Linked DNA regions of Homo sapiens: all the other regions are linked to region 1. Evidence: fine-mapped expression QTL. A gene starts in region 1. Each other region holds a variant in brackets. All regions are shown on one strand. Distances are between the middles of the regions. Region 1 holds the start of EEPD1 (endonuclease/exonuclease/phosphatase family domain containing 1). Region 2 overlaps EEPD1 (endonuclease/exonuclease/phosphatase family domain containing 1). Region 3 overlaps EEPD1 (endonuclease/exonuclease/phosphatase family domain containing 1).

Region 1 (5,222 bases):
TACATACATATCTTACAAAATTTAGTGTCTGTGCATGGGGTAGGGGTGGGAGGATTGCATCATGAAATAGCACAGCAGATAAAATAGACTGTTAGCCGTAAGTTTAAAGGCCTCTGTCGCCCACTTTCCTGAGCCCCCAAGCCAAGCTGGGGAATGTTCTCTTCTATTAGCTGTCTGTTCAACTTCTTGGACCCCTTCATCCCCCTCCTAAACCTTTTCATCTCCACCCAGGCTCACGTACCCCACTCTCCCCAAAAACAAGGCCTATGTTTTTTTAGATTCAGAGAAAATTTTTTTTCATTTTTTGAAGATTTTTCCAAAGCTGTTGTCACTGAAGTACACCCAAATGCACATATTTAAAGTATACGATTCTGTCAGTTTTGACATTCATATGCCCATGAAACTATCACCTCTCAAACTACATTGCCATCAGCCCCCAAAGTTTCTTTGTGCCCTTTAAAATCCATTCCTCCCTCCCCATCATCCCCAGGTAACCACTGATCTGCTTTCTCTATATGTATGTCAGTTTGTATTTTCTGGTGTTTTATATAAATAGAATCATACAGTATGTTCTTTTTTGCCTTGCTTCTTTCACTCAGTATAACGATTTTGAGACTTTTCAATGTCATGTAATAGTTTGTCTTTATTGCTCAGTAGCATTCCATTGTATGGATATACTACAATTTATTCATTCATCCACTGATGGATTTGAGTTTCTTGTTGTTTTGCTTTGTGTGTGTGTGTGTGTGTGTGTGTGTGTGTGGGTGTGTGTGTGTGTGTGTGTTTGGCTATAACAAACAAAGCTCCTATGAACATCCACATTCAAGTCTCTGGGTTTCATGTTTTCCTTTTTCTTTGGTAAATACCTATAAGTAGATTGGTTGAGTCATATGGTAAGTATACGTTTAACTTCTTAGGAAACTTCCAAACTGATTTCCAAAGTAGTGGTGCCATCTTACACCTCCACCAGCAATGTATGACCATTTCAATTGCTCTGCGTCCTCACCAACATTGGATACAATCAGTCGTTTTAAAGTTAACCATCTCATTGCATGTTTTTGTGGGGTGTATGTATGTGTGTTTTTAAATGCACTTTGGTTTGGCCAACGCTTGGTTTCATTTATACCAAGGGGAGCATTTGCTAGGTTTATGGGGAATAAAACCAGATTATTTCTGTTGTTCTAGGATATTATTAATAGAGTCCTCTCTTCACCTCCAGAGTGTCCTGGTTTGTATGATAAAATATGTTTTCTCTGCTTCCAGCCCAAGTAGCCACGCTCCACGGCTGTGCTTCCACAGCCACGTTGCGCATCAAGGCATTCTGCTCAACGAAGAGTTTTCTCTGTTTTCCTGCTTGTCTTAAACTGTTTTTTCCTTACCGCACCAGGATTTCAGTGCGTGGCATAATGTAGCCCAGTGTTTGGGTGGGAGATGATGGTAGGTAGCAAGGCATTTTTGCGATCAAGTGCAAATAGCTTGCCTAAAAATAAAGCCAATAAAGAGAACCGTGGAGCCAGAGATGGAGGCAGTCCTGCCATGTCCTAATGACCCCATCATCACTTGGGTCGGATGCAACCAGACTTGAGGTAAGATTCCTTACCTTAACTTTTCAACAAGGAACCAAAAATTTCCCCCCGACCTTTTTTTTTTTTTTTTTGGTCTAAGCTAGTTTGACTTGGTTTTCTGACCAATATACATAGCAGGGGAATGTGCCTCAGAAAGGCAGTAGCATTTTCCAAACTTGGGCTGCCGCTAATTTTACAACCAAAGTACCTTCCGCCTGTGAGAGGTACTATTTTTGCTGACCCAGTCCTTGGAATTGAAACCAGATGCACTGGTCACATTGGTTGGGGATGAAACTTCAGAGAACACTAAACGTCCAGGGTCAAAGTATTCAACGATATCACCGCATGATTTGCTTAATCGAATACTCTAGCTCTAGGTATCCACTATAATGCAGAGGGCTCTTTAATCTTTAACCAAATTGTCATTTAGCAGTGTGATGCAAAAACTCTTCTGGGTTTTGGGAAGCAGCCCCCATTTCCCTCCTTCGTAATGATTAGACTTAATATTACAAAAACTTATCCTTGTTTACTCACAGCGCTAAATGTGCAAAGGAGCAAACCTGTATTTGACCTATGCGAACACACAGGAGGGTGGTGCGTGCCCTCTGCTAGGAGCACAATGCGTCGCTGGCGTTATTAGAGGACATCTCTCTGAGCGGAGCAAAGGTAATACACTGGTGGAAGAAAAGAAAAGGCCGAAAGTGGGGACAGAAATTAAGACGATCCCATTCAGTCTCCTCTGGAACGTTCTGCAAAATTCCGTGAGACCCTGGACCTACAGCGATGCACTCTCAGGGACTGCCCCGGCCTTCATCCCCACACCTCAAAGACAGACGAAAAGCAGCTGAGCAGATCTCGCCTCGGGCAATCCTAAACAGCCTCTACCAGGCACAACCAGTCCTAGGCCCCGGGCGGCAACCATGGTCCGGGGGCAGCTGACTTAGGACAGCCTCCCTGTGACCCGCCCTCGCCGGCACGGCGCCGGCTCCGCCCCTTAAGCCCCCTAAGTCCCGCCTCTGCGCTCCCGGGGCCTACCCCCGCGCTCATGGCCCCGCCCCCGCTTTTCCTACCCCATCGCGCCCTGGCCCCGCTCCCACACTCTATGACCCCGCCTCTCGCACTCCAGGCCCGCCCCACGCGCTCCAGGGTTCTGCTCTCCACCCATTTGTGCCAGGCCACGCCCCCACACCCATGGCTCCTCCTCTCGCACGCCAGGGCCTCCCCTCGCGCTCTCTGGTTCGTTCTCCACCCTCTTGAGCCTTGATGCCGCCCCCTCTTCCATGGCCCCGCCTCTCCCACTCCAGGCCCGCCCTTGCGCTCTCGGGTTCCTCTCTCCACCCACTGGTGCCAGGCCTCGCCCCGCGCCAGGGCCCCTCCCCCACGTGCCCTCGGGAGTCCCGGGGAGGAGTTGCCGCGCGGAGGAGGCGTGGCCGCGGTGCCTGCGGAGGCGCGAGCGGCGCGGCGCGGCGCGGCCGGGACTTTGGCTTTGACACCGACTGCGAGCGGGAGCCGTGCGGCTGGTGCTGGGTCTGGACTGGCTCTGGCGGATCCCCGCCCGAGTTGGGCGCAGGACTTTTTGCCGGGGTAAACGCAACTGCGGCGGCGCCGCCGCAAGCCCCGGTGCAGCCTCGGCGGCGGGTTTCGCCGCCGCTGCCGCCGCCTCCGAGCAGCCCTGCGGCTTCTATTCACTCTGGGAGAGCGATGCTAAGTTTCTCCCATAGAAAGAGCCGGGACACGCAGACCGAAGCGGCGTAGTCGGCTTCCAGGGCCTGACCAGTGACCCACACCCGCGCGGACGCCTAGGCTGGAGGCAGGGGGCCCGTGCTGTCCCGGGCTGGGCTCAGGCTTCCGAGCCGCAGGTGGAAGAGGAACCGGCGCCCCGCAGAGCGGCCGAGAGGTGGGGCGCGGGGACCCGCGGCAGGTCGGGTGGGGGGTCGATAAGCCCCTTCTCAGTGCCCGCTCCGGGGAGCACGGACTTCCCAGGTTGCAGGTAGCGCTGTGTCAGATGCGGAGCGTGGGGGAGGTGGAGTGGCCACCCCGTCTGCGCGAGCCCAAGTGTGGGTGACCCAAGTGTCAGAGTTGAGAGAGGCCTGGAGGAGAGGCATGAGGCTGATGGGGATAGGTCTCTTCCCAAGAGAAGCGGCTCGTAGCCTTTTTGGACTCCAGTGTGATAAAACCCGGACGTCCCTAGAGGAGAATCCACATGGGCCTAGCCTCATTGTGCCTGCGTTTTTAGGGGTTCACGGGCAGCCACCAGTCCCCGACTCCTGGTTACTAACTCTAGCACTAGGTAGGGGGTGCTAATGCAAATTTCTTAATTCAATGGGTTTCTATGTTTATTGATTTATTTTCTAGGCGGCCAAGTGAAAGGTAATTTTGGACACGCCAGGCATGGAAGATTCGGTGTTTGTCTATAGTAACCTCTTCAGTCCCTGAATCCTGCACCTTCCGTTTTTCTGTGCTTGTACGGCCTACTGGGCTTCCTCCCTAGCCAGAGAGCTCTTCTGCAGTGGTGCGGCCTTCCCGGGAGCCTGATCCTGGCGGACCATGGGGAGCACCCTGGGCTGCCACCGCTCCATCCCCAGGGACCCCTCGGACCTGTCCCATAGCCGCAAGTTCAGCGCAGCCTGTAACTTCAGCAACATTCTAGTGAATCAGGAGCGGCTCAACATCAACACTGCCACGGAGGAGGAGCTGATGACCCTGCCTGGGGTGACGCGTGCCGTGGCACGCAGCATCGTGGAGTACCGAGAGTATATCGGTGGCTTCAAGAAGGTGGAGGACCTGGCATTGGTCAGTGGTGTAGGCGCCACCAAGCTGGAGCAGGTCAAGTTTGAGATCTGTGTGAGCAGCAAGGGCAGCTCAGCGCAGCACTCTCCCAGTTCCCTGCGGCGGGACCTGCTAGCGGAGCAGCAGCCTCACCACCTGGCCACAGCTGTGCCCCTCACCCCACGTGTTAACATCAACACAGCCACCCCGGCCCAGCTCATGAGCGTGCGAGGCCTCTCGGAGAAAATGGCCCTCAGCATCGTGGACTTCCGCCGTGAGCATGGGCCCTTTCGCAGCGTTGAGGACCTAGTGAGGATGGATGGTATCAATGCCGCCTTCCTGGACAGGATCCGGCACCAGGTGTTTGCTGAGAGGTCCAGGCCCCCATCCACCCACACGAACGGGGGACTGACCTTCACCGCCAAGCCTCACCCGAGCCCCACTTCCCTGAGCCTGCAGAGTGAGGACCTGGACCTGCCGCCAGGGGGGCCCACCCAGATTATCTCCACTCGGCCGTCCGTGGAGGCCTTTGGAGGCACAAGGGATGGGAGGCCTGTGCTGAGGCTGGCCACCTGGAACTTGCAGGGCTGTTCCGTGGAGAAGGCCAACAACCCCGGGGTGCGAGAGGTGGTGTGCATGACACTCCTGGAAAACAGGTGAGGACAGGAACCACCATGGGTGTTGGGTGTGAAGGCAACTTGTGCGTGACCTCATCTATGGATGCAAATGAATGGATTCTTTTGCGGGTAGGGAGGGTGCAAGAGTTTTTAATCAATGTTCTTGAAGCCTCAGCCAATACCGTCACCTGAGAATGGGCTGTCCTTCTGCTCCAGAATTTTCTGAATACAGCTGGGCTTGTGACCCATGTCTTGAGTGTGAGATATCTGA
Region 2 (5,222 bases), 93 kb after region 1:
CCGGCCTTTGAGTTTTGTAATCACTGAACTCCCAACACCCTGCTGTGATAGAACTGGTCGCTTCTAGCCAGACAGTCCCAACAGTGGGGACCTGCACAGGCCTCCTCTTTTAAGATGGAAGCTATTCTAAAGGGGCCATTTCCTTCACAAGTACTGGTGGATTAAATTTGAACAATAAAATATTTAAATTATGTAAAACCTAATGTGAGTTCATGTCCTTTGTAGGGACATGGATGAAATTGGAAATCATCATTCTCAGTAAACTATCGCAAGGACAAAAAACCAAACACCGCATGTTCTCACTCATAGATGGGAATTGAACAATGAGAACACATGGACACAGGAAGGGGAACATCACACTCTGGGGACTGTTGTGGGGTAGGGGGAGGGGGGAGGGATAGCATTAGAAGATATACCTAATGCTAAATGACGAGTTAATGGGTGCAGCACACCAGCATGGCACATGTATACATATGTAACTAACCTGCACATTGTGCACATGTACCCTAAAACTTAAAGTATAATAATAATTAAAAAAAAAGAAAATAGTCTTAATTCAATAGGTAGAGCCAGCAAAAAAGGGCTTAGTTAGACACACATTCTGCAAACCTCAAACCTCTTTTACTGTCATGCAGCTGAGCTTCAAATGACAACCTGCCTTTGAGTTTTGTAATCACTGAACTCCCAACACCCTGCTATGATAGAACTGGTCGCTTCTAGCCAGACAGTCCCAACAGTGGGGACCTGCACAGGCCTCCTCTTTTAAGATGGAAGCTATTCTAAAGGGGCCATTTCCTTCACAAGTACTGGTAGATTAAATTTGAACAATAAAAGATTTAAATTATGTAAAACCTAATATAAAAAGCTAAAAAGAAGTAGTAGTCTTTTAAGGTCTCATAGAAAATAAGTGCTTTTTCTTGCTAATATTAGGCCTTGTTATTAGGATCTTAGTATTTTAACTTAAAATGACCAGCCATTTGCCTAAACATTACTTGGTTTTAGGTAGACAGCCTTCCCATTTTTAGACGTGCCAAGGTTTTCCTGTTTTCTGCAGAGCCCAGAGCCAGCTCTGAGGAGGTTCCCAATTGGCAGAGCCGAGTTCTCCTCCCGGTGTGGCCTCTGCTGAGCTGCTGTGTCTGGCAGAGGATCTTCCCTGAAGGCCCCAGCCCCTTTCCTAGCCTGTGAAACTGCTCTCTGTGATTCCTTCCCACTCTTCGATACCTGGGCTTCATTTTTCAGAGTTGATTTTTTTTTTTTTTTTTTTTTTGGAGACGGAGTCTTGCCCTGTTGCCCAGGCTGGAGTGCAATGGTGTGATCTCGGCTCACTGCAACCTCCGCATCCTGAGTTCGAGCAATTCTCCTGCCTCAGCCTCCTGAGTAGCTGGGATTATAGGTGTCTGCCATTATGCCCGGCTAATGTTTTTTTTTTGTTGTTTTTTTTGAGATGGAGTCTCGCTCTGTTGCCCAAGCTAGAGTGCAGTAGTATGATCTCGGCTCACTGCAACCTTCACCTCCCAGGTGCAAGCAATTCTCCTGCCTCAGCCTCCTGAGTAGCTGGGATTACAGGTGCCTGCCACCATGCCCAGCTAATTTTTTTGTATTTTTATTAGAGATGGGATCTCACCATGTTGGCCAGGCTGGTCTTGATCTCCGGGCCTCAGGTCATCCACCCACCTTGGTCTCCCAAAGTGCTGGGATTACAGACATGAGCTACCGCGCCTGGCCACAGAGTTGATTCTTGATCACATTGTGAAGAGGGGGACATTTTGCCCTTGTGTACTCAGTTTTCTCGTATTTTCTCCACTTCCTTGCTCCAGTGGTCCTTACTGTGTTTGGGGGCTTTCCTGTTTCACCTGCCCTACTTACCATCAAATCACGTGTTCTGGGAAGAGGTGAATGGTGAACACAAGCCCAGTACATAGATACACAGAGACCCCCAAGGCATAAATCAGTAGGGTTCTAGTTTTTGCCTCTTATTCTTTGTCTTCATTTAGGTGCAGTAGATTGGGTAGGAGGTGGGGGCCCCTTGTGGGATCAGGCTTCTGAGTTTCTCTTCTCTCCTAACGCTACACAGAGCCAGTTCCCAGACTAGTAAAAGTGACTTGTCACTTATTTTTAAAATGTTATAAACCATACAATTAACAATCTAAATTCTTCAACCAATTTCTTCTTTTGAAAAATGGTTAGAACCATGAGCAGATGATCTAAGATGTGTGAGTGTCAGTGCATGTGACATTGGTCTGAAAAAGTGTTTTGGATTTAGATGTGCTTTTTTTGTCAAACATCCATTAGGTCCCAAGAGCAAGAACTTGCTGTAAGAAGGATACATGTCATGCAGTTCTCTGTTGTTTTTGCTCTGAGAGTGGGACACTTCTGTTTTTCTGAACTTAAGTCACAGG[T/G]ACTTGTTTCCCAGGCTTTAAACACAGGCCCATCTAAAGCCTTTAAAAGTGGCATTTCATAAAAGGAAATAAAAATATTGGTACAGCTTGATTTAGAAAGATCATTTTTCAATGACCCTTTCAAATGGCTTCCTGCAAAGCCACAAACAATAGTTTGGCCGGTCATTCCAGCTGGACCGTGGTAGGACCAGAGGGCGGACCACTGGCTGACCCAACCTGAGACCAGTGCCTGCCTGAGAAGCTGCCTGTGTGAGCTGGGCCCTCAGGAGACACAGGCCACCCACCTGGTGGCCTTGCCAGTGCTGCCGCTCCCAGATCATGACTCTGTTATAATTACAAGTCCACTGAGTTCATGCTGTGAGGGCAGTGGTGGGGGTTGAAGCCAGCCCTGCCATTTGCCAGCTGGGGGACATAGGAGGCCAGGTACTGGCTAGCCTCTGTTTCTTTTTAACATGGAGCTTCAGAATAATACCTATCCTATTAGGATATTGTTATGAGAACTAAGTGAGATGTGTGAAATAAAAGCCGTTATGTATATCGTAAGCACCAAAGTGGCAGTAGCTGGTACTATCCCCTCTACTGCTAATTAGCTGCTGCTGTGGTCGTCATCATCATCATCACTGGCATCTCGTCCTTACTTCTCTCTGGAGAAGCCCAACTTGAGATCGATCTGTTGCCATTAAAAGATGTGAAAGAAGTTGCATCCCCACTGCTCCTTTTGCCAAATTGTCTAGGAAAAGATGCCTGTCAGTCCTCCCTGCTGATAGGTGTTTTTTTTTTAGAATTTCAGCTTTGGAGCCCAACTCCTATTCTAGTTTTCCTGAAGATGGAGCAGACCTCTAAGATGTCTTAGAGTGCTTTACATGTGTGACAGAGTATGTGCATTTCATCAGCAAGCTTGGGACTAGAAAAATTGAACTTGGGCTGGGCGCAGTGTCTCACGCCTGTAATCCCAGCACTTTGGGAGGCCAAGGCGGGTGGATCGCCTGAGGTCAGGAGTTCGAGACCAGCCTGGCCGATATGGTGAAACCCCATCTCTACCAAAAATACAAAAATTAGCCAGGCGTGGTGGCACACACCTGTAATTCCAGCTACTCGGGAGGCTGAGGCAGAATTGCTTGATCCTGGGAGGCAGAGGTTGCAGTGAGCTGAGATCGCACCATTGCACTACAGCCTGGGTGACAGAGTGAGACTCCATCTCAAAAAAAAAAAAAAAAAGAAAAGAAAAAAATTGAACTTGACAGATTAGTCAGGGAGTTTCCAGGCAAACCCTAGTGGTGGGCAACGTTAGAATGATAGCTTCCTGGGAATTTTCAGAAGGAAAGAGGATGATAAGCCATTTTCACATAGATGTGTGTGAATAACCTAAGGATGCAAAGTGCTTGTGTCTGTAATTGGTGAGGGTGTTTTCTGAATATACACACATGTACATCCATAAACACTACCTCTCTTATTACGTGCTTTTGGAGTGTTATTCACTATGATTTGGACTTGCAATTAACTTAGTTTCTGCAACAATTGAGTGCTTGCTCAGTGCCAAAATTATACTGTTTACCAACGGGGATAAAGTTATAAAGATACATGTGATTATAAAGATACATTTACATTTGAATGGCATAGAATCCCAGAACTTCAGAATCAAGGGAGACTTTTAAAACCATCTAATCCAACCCTGTCATTTTGCAGACAGGACATTGAGGCCAAGGGAGTTGAAGTGCCCTCTGCCCCAGGTCCACAGCAGGTGTGTTGGTAATCCAGGACCCATCACAGCAGACTGGGCTCCATTTCCCAGCTCCTTTAAGTGCAACCAGCTGCCCATCTTCTGTGATCTCATTTAATCTGAACATCAGCCTTAGCAGGCATACTGGACGATCCTATCTCCGCATTTCCCAGGAGTGGGAGCAGGTCCATAGGATCAGTCCTGGCCCAGGTGATGGGGAACCAATGCCCAGATCTTCTCATAGTGTGACTTGTAGCAAAACAGACTTGCACAGTTGGTGTTAGCCTCCTCCAGCAGGAGAGGCAGAGAATGTGGGATGGGGGATAGAGGACGCAGAAGGAGGTTCTGGGTTCCAGATGTGGACAATGTCAAAGGAGCACCTAAAAGTGAAGGAACACACAGGGTGTGAGGGCTGCCTAGAGACCATCCACCTAGCAGGTTATGGGAGCCATGAGGACACGTGAGAGGTTGGAGGACGTGGACTGGACACACCTTTCATTTGGGCTTGGTGTCCAAATGAATTACTTCAAGAATCTTAACTTATAAAAATATATATACTTTAAGATACTTTTTTTTTTTTTGAGACAGAGTCTCACTCTGTCCCCCAGGCTGGAGTGCAGTGGTGCAATCTCAGCTCATTGCAACCTCCACCTCCTGAGCTCAAGCGATTTTACCCCCCTCAGCCTCCCGACTAGCTGGAATTACAGGCTTGCACCACCACACCCAGCTAATTTTTTCTATTTTTAGTAGAGAGTTGGTTTCACTGCATTTCCCAGGCTGGTCTCAAACTCCTGGCCTCAAGTAATCTGCCCACCTCGGCCTCCCAAAGTGCTGGGATTACAGGCATGAGCCACCACCCTCGGCCAGATACTCTTTTTTTTTTTTTTTTTTTCCAAAAAAACACTGTGTTATTTCAAAAATATCAGAATGAGATTCTTCAGATCCCTTATTTATTTTCCCCCACCCCCGCCACACTTAGCCCTTCATGTAGTCAGAGCTGAATTTGAATACCACCTTGAGTGATCAATATTCATATATTTGTATAAATTTGCATTGGGTTGAGCAAGATCAGTGGCTAATCATGAGTAAACTCATTGTAATCA
Region 3 (5,222 bases), 140 kb after region 1:
GAGCCTCTCCCTGTTGCTTTGTTTCCTGCTGCCTAGGTGGGAAGTCACGACCTGACCCTTGTTAACCTTCACCTGGCAGCCCTGACCCTCCTGGGGAGCGAGAATCCCAGCAAGAATCACAGTGATGGCCACCGGTTGGCGAGCTTTGCACAGACCCTACAGGAAACCCTGAAAGGTAGGACATTGTCTTTTGCTGTGACTCGGCCACTGTTTTGCAGAGCAGCAGGGCTGCCTCTTCTGAGCCATCTCTGACCACTTGGGCTGGCTGTTTGTCAGCAATGTGAGTCGCGGGTACAGGGGACAGTCAAACCTCTGGCATCTCATGGAGCCCAGCTGACCCTGCACGGCCACATCTGTGCCTCTGTGGACCTAGCATATGCGTTCCAAGCTGTCAGCTCTGTGGCTTTTTAGCCTCATTTAGATAGAAAGGATTAGGGGGGAAGAATATAAGTGATGATGCCCTTCCCCGAAGACAGCTCATCCTGGGACCAGCTGCCTCGGGCATCACTCCGGTGGTGCCGCCTGCAGATTTGCATGTGCTCTTCCTGTGAAAGAGAGACGGGGGTGACAAGGGGAAGTGGTAAATTGCTGATGATTGGTGAATTGAGTTTTTCTCTCTGGCGGGATACAGAGCATGTTGAAGAAGCCCTGAACCTGTCAGAAATGCTGGATTTTAATCTTGTAGGACCTCAGGCAAGCCACCAAACCACTTCAGGCCCCCATCTGATGGGGGACAGTACTCATCTCATAGCAGTACCCAGAGGGCTAAGTAACAGTGTCTGCAGCAATACCAAGCACATAGTAGGGACTTCATGTACACGAGTTGACTCTAAAACATGAGAAGAATTAAGAGAACACTGAAAAGAGCAGAATTCTAGCTAGGCACGGTAGCTCATGCCTGTAATCTCAGCACTTTGGGAGGCCAAGGCGGGAGGATCACTTGAGCCCAGGAGTTCAAGAGCAGCTTGGGCAACATAGTGAGACCCTGTCTCTACAAAGAACGAAAAAAATTAGCCGGGCATGGTGGTACACACCAGTAGTCCCAGATATTCAGGAGGTTGAGGAGGGAGAATCACTTGAGCCCAGGAAGTCGAGGCTGCAGTGAGCTTTGATCGCACCACTGTACTCCAGTCTGGGCAACACAGCAAGACCCCATCTCTTAAAAAAAAAAAAAAAAGGAGCTGAACTCCAGGACAAAGGGGGGCTATGCCCCAACTAATATAGATGGTTTTCTGCACTTGGTTTACCAAAAGAAAAGGTTGACAAGGCTGTGAAGACTGTGATCTTATCCATCTGGCTTGATTTTTCAGAACACTGACCTTGTCTAGGTGAGTTTGTAGTTGGAGGCTTGGAATTCTCTTCTATCTTTTGAGTCTGGACCAATATTCTCTAGCTTTCTAAGACTTCCTCGTTAAACTGGCCCCTCAAATTGGGAGATTCATGAAGATTTTACTACAAAAATATTTCAGTCAAACTGTAGGCTCACATTTCAAAAGATGTATGTATGTATATATGTATATATGTATTTGAATTTGCATTTCTAACAAAAAAGATTTTTTACTGTGGTAAAATATATGTAACATAAAATTTACCATTTTAATCATTTTACATATTCAAGTCAGTGCTACTAATGTATTGACATTGTTGTACAAACATTACCACCATCCGTCTCCAGAACCTTTTCATCTTTCCAAACTGAAGCTCGGTACCCATTCAACGATATCTCCCCATGCGCCCCTCCCTGCAGCCCTTGGCAACCAGCATTCTACCTTCTGTCTCTGTGATTGTGACTACTCTAGGTGCCCCAAATAAGTAGAATGATAATATTTGTCCTTTTGTGTCTGGCTTGTTTCACTTAGTATAATGTCTTCAAGGTTCATCCATGTTGTAGCATGTGTCAGAATTTCCTCACTTTTTTGTGTGTGTGTGTCGCCCAGGCTGGAGTGCAGAGGCACGATCTCGGCTCACTGCAAGCTCCGCCTCCCGGGTTCACGCCATTCTCCTGCCTCAGCCTCCCGAGTAGCTGGGACTATAGGCGCCCGCCACCGCGCCTGGCTAATTTTTTGTATTTTTAGTAGAGACGGGGTTTCACCGTGTTAGCCAGGATGGTCTCAATCTCCTGACCTCGTGATCTGCCCGCCTCGGCCTCCCAAAGTGCTGGGATTACAGGCGTGAGCCACAGCGCCTGGCCAGAATTTCCTCACTTTTTGAGGCTAAGTAATATCCCACTGTGCATCCATCCACCATAGTTTGTTGCTTATCCATTCATCTTCTGATAGACACTTGGGTAGCTTCCACCTTTGTCCTGTTGTGACAACGCTGCTGTGAAGATTGATGTGCAGCAGCTTTTCTTTTGAACCAGGACATGCCGTGACCAACGTTCTACTTTAAGGATGAGTCCTCAGGCTAAAAACAGTCAGAAGATGCTCTATCCAAGAAGCAACTGTGTGGGAAATTGTCCACCTATAGTTAGACTCTGATCTGTAAAATGGACAACTTGATAGCTTGTCACATCTGTGGACATTACTATTGTTCTTGATCTCAAACTTTTTGTGGAAGCAGAAAGGAAAGATGCCAGCTCATAACTTCTTTGACAGCCTTAGGCAGTCACCATCCCCCCACCCCACCCCTGGTATCCAGGGAGTAGTCAGGATTTTGGCAGAAAACCTTGGGCAGGTTATGTTCCAAATTGCCAAGGTACTATTGACCCACAGCCTGGCTTGGCCTTGACTCATCCAAGTAGGGACAATGACTCATGCTGCCTGTGTCCCCT[G/C]CTTGTAACTAGTACCCAATTAATTATTAACTGGTGACACTCCAGACCCAGGGGTTCAGGAAGCAATTCAGCCTGCCCAGGTCTAACAAGGGTAGACAAGTCAGCAGAGGGGTTCAGCTAAAGCAAAGACAAAGCCTTCATTCCACAGCTTCTATCAGAGCAAACAGAACCGATGTGGTTAGCAAGCTCCGGGCCTTTCTGCCTTTGTCTGGAACGTGCATGCAGGCTGACGTCAGTGGGGATATGCCAGTCCCCTAGTGGAACCTTCTTCCCTCAGACCTCACCAGGACTTGGGGACAGGGTCTCCCTCTGTGAACTGAGCAAGAGTGAAACAGGGTGTGTAGTAACTCTTGACATCTTGGCAGATGGTCCCTCAGTGGGGACTGGTTCCTGTAGTTGTCATTGGCGTTTTATAAATCTAGAGACTCTCTGAGGAAGTCAGCCCAAAACGTTCTCCCCTCACTGCTGGGAATCAAGGGAGCGACAAAGGAGCCCAGCCCAGGTGGGTGGCTTTTTAGGAAGATAACTCAGGCTCCTGCGCATCTACCTGTGGATTCTCAGAAGCAACAACTGCCTTGATGTCATCACCGACGCGGATTCAATCGGAAGAACATGAGTTGTAAGAAATCCGATGTGCTCATTCAAAAAGGGAACCGTTGTCACTCCTGAAGCTACACAGAGCTGGCTCTATTGACCCTTGACACCAGCGTCTCTCCTGGCTTTAGAATTGTCTTTTTCAGCCCAGACCTTTGCAGGCCTGCATCCCAACGAAAACCTCCCTCATTATATGGGAACTTTGTTTTCTTTGATATTCAATGAATGTAGCATCTTTCTCTTTGTTCCTTTCCAAATCAAACTGCACCCTAATTCTGGGACATTTGTGGTTCCGCTTGTCTGTTGCTCACATATTTATTGAGTGCCTGCTGATGCACTTGGTGTCGCAGTGGACAGCAGCCACTTCCGTGTGGTCTTCCATCCTAGCCCTTTGTGGTGAGCCCTGGATTTGAGGCCTGGCCTGGTGACTTTGGACAAACCTTCCCACCTCTGGGAGCCTGTTTCGTACCTGCAGAAGGGAGATGGTAACAGCACCTGCCCCATGGGTCGTGGCTGTTAAGTGCGGTGCTATCGAGGAAGTGGTCAGCACAGTGCCATGACTATTATTCAAGCTGGCACTGATTTCTCCATGGTGTGGGTGGCCCTGCAGGAGAGGCTTCCTTCCATCCCACCCATTGTCCTCACTCCTCCTAGAGGAGGGCGCCATCTGCAATGCACATGCGCCCTCTGGTGGTGGCCTGAGTGGCTTCCCTTCAGATTCCTTTCCCTGCAGTTGTTATTACGGAAGCACACCCGTGGCCAGGAAAAAAAGATTTGCCAAGTGTCGTGGATACATTTATGACTTCGTTTATGAACTGCTTTCCCTAAAGCCTCCTTCACAAGGTGTGGCAGAAATGCCACCTCCTGCTGTGGGACAACAAGGGTCAAGCAGAGCCCAGGGGAATCCCGCAGAGCCCAGCTGGGGGGCGAGTGTTCTTTCAGGATTTCTACTCGCTTTGCTTGGAAAATACTTCATAACTATCCCACTTCCTCTAGGGTAAATCAGACTGTGGGAGAAATGTCTAAAATGCTTTAGGAGAAAACCTTTCCCCCTTGGCCCTGAAATCACTTTGTAGTTCTTATGCACACATATTTAACTTCCACTGTGTGTCTCTCCCTGACAAACCTGTGAAGCTGTATCAGGAAACTGATCAGGAAGGGGGCCCACGCTACATGTGAGTGCCCCGTGCCAGGCGCTTCTGGCGGCTCCTCTAATCCTGACACCAACCTGGGAGGAAATGGCTTGTTCTTTCCCTTTTATAGACTAAAAGGCTTGCCCAAGGTCACGAAGCTGGGAAGTGACAAACTTCAAATTCCACACTCAGAGTCATCCAGCTGTTTTCTCTTAGAACCGGGGCCGAGAACCACTGTTTTCTTTCTTTCTTTTTTCTTTTCTTTTCTTTTGTTTTGTTTTCTTTTCTTTTCTTTCTTTCTTTTCTTTCTTTTTCTCTCTTTTTCTTTCTCTCTCTCTGTCTCTCCCTCCCTCCCTCCTTGTCTTTCTCTCTCTCTCTCTTTCTCTCTCTTTTTCTCTTTCTCTTTCTCTTCTTTCTTTTCTTCTTTGACAGAGTCTCACTCTAGCCGAGGCTGGAGTGCAGTGGAGCCATGTTGGCTCACTGCAACCTCTGTCTCCCGGGTTCAAGCGATTCTCCTGCCTCAGCCTCCCAAGTAACTGGGATTACAGGCGCCCACCACTATGCCCAGCTGATTTTTGCATCTTTAGTAGAGATGGGGTTTCACTATGTCGGCCAGGCTGGTCTCAAACTCCTGACCTCAGTGGATCCCCTGCCTCAGCCTCCCAAAGTGCTGGGATTACAGGTGTGAGCCACTGTGCCTGGCCTAGAGCCACTGTTTTCTG

The links.
Region 2: its variant is fine-mapped to the expression of EEPD1 in tibial artery (GTEx, PIP above 0.99).
Region 3: its variant is fine-mapped to the expression of EEPD1 in pancreas (GTEx, PIP 0.97).

Annotation. Positions count from the first base shown.
Region 1 is chr7:36,150,213-36,155,434 of GRCh38, forward strand. It overlaps EEPD1 (endonuclease/exonuclease/phosphatase family domain containing 1), which reads left to right and starts at 3,042. Exons shown (of 8, transcript NM_030636.3): 1 at 3,042-3,462; 2 at 3,921-4,990. The coding sequence starts at 4,113. RefSeq lists a silencer at 2,454-3,173.
Region 2 is chr7:36,243,523-36,248,744 of GRCh38, forward strand. The region is part of intron 3 of EEPD1 (endonuclease/exonuclease/phosphatase family domain containing 1); the gene reads left to right. Among named protein-coding and RNA genes, the nearest start is that of EEPD1, 93 kb to the left of the region's middle. RefSeq lists an enhancer at 2,672-3,174. The variant T/G (reference allele first, on the strand shown) is at 2,400.
Region 3 is chr7:36,287,603-36,292,824 of GRCh38, forward strand. EEPD1 (endonuclease/exonuclease/phosphatase family domain containing 1) reads left to right here. Exons shown (of 8, transcript NM_030636.3): 6 at 37-175. Among named protein-coding and RNA genes, the nearest start is that of MATCAP2, 77 kb to the right of the region's middle. RefSeq lists a silencer at 4,438-4,732. The variant G/C (reference allele first, on the strand shown) is at 2,774.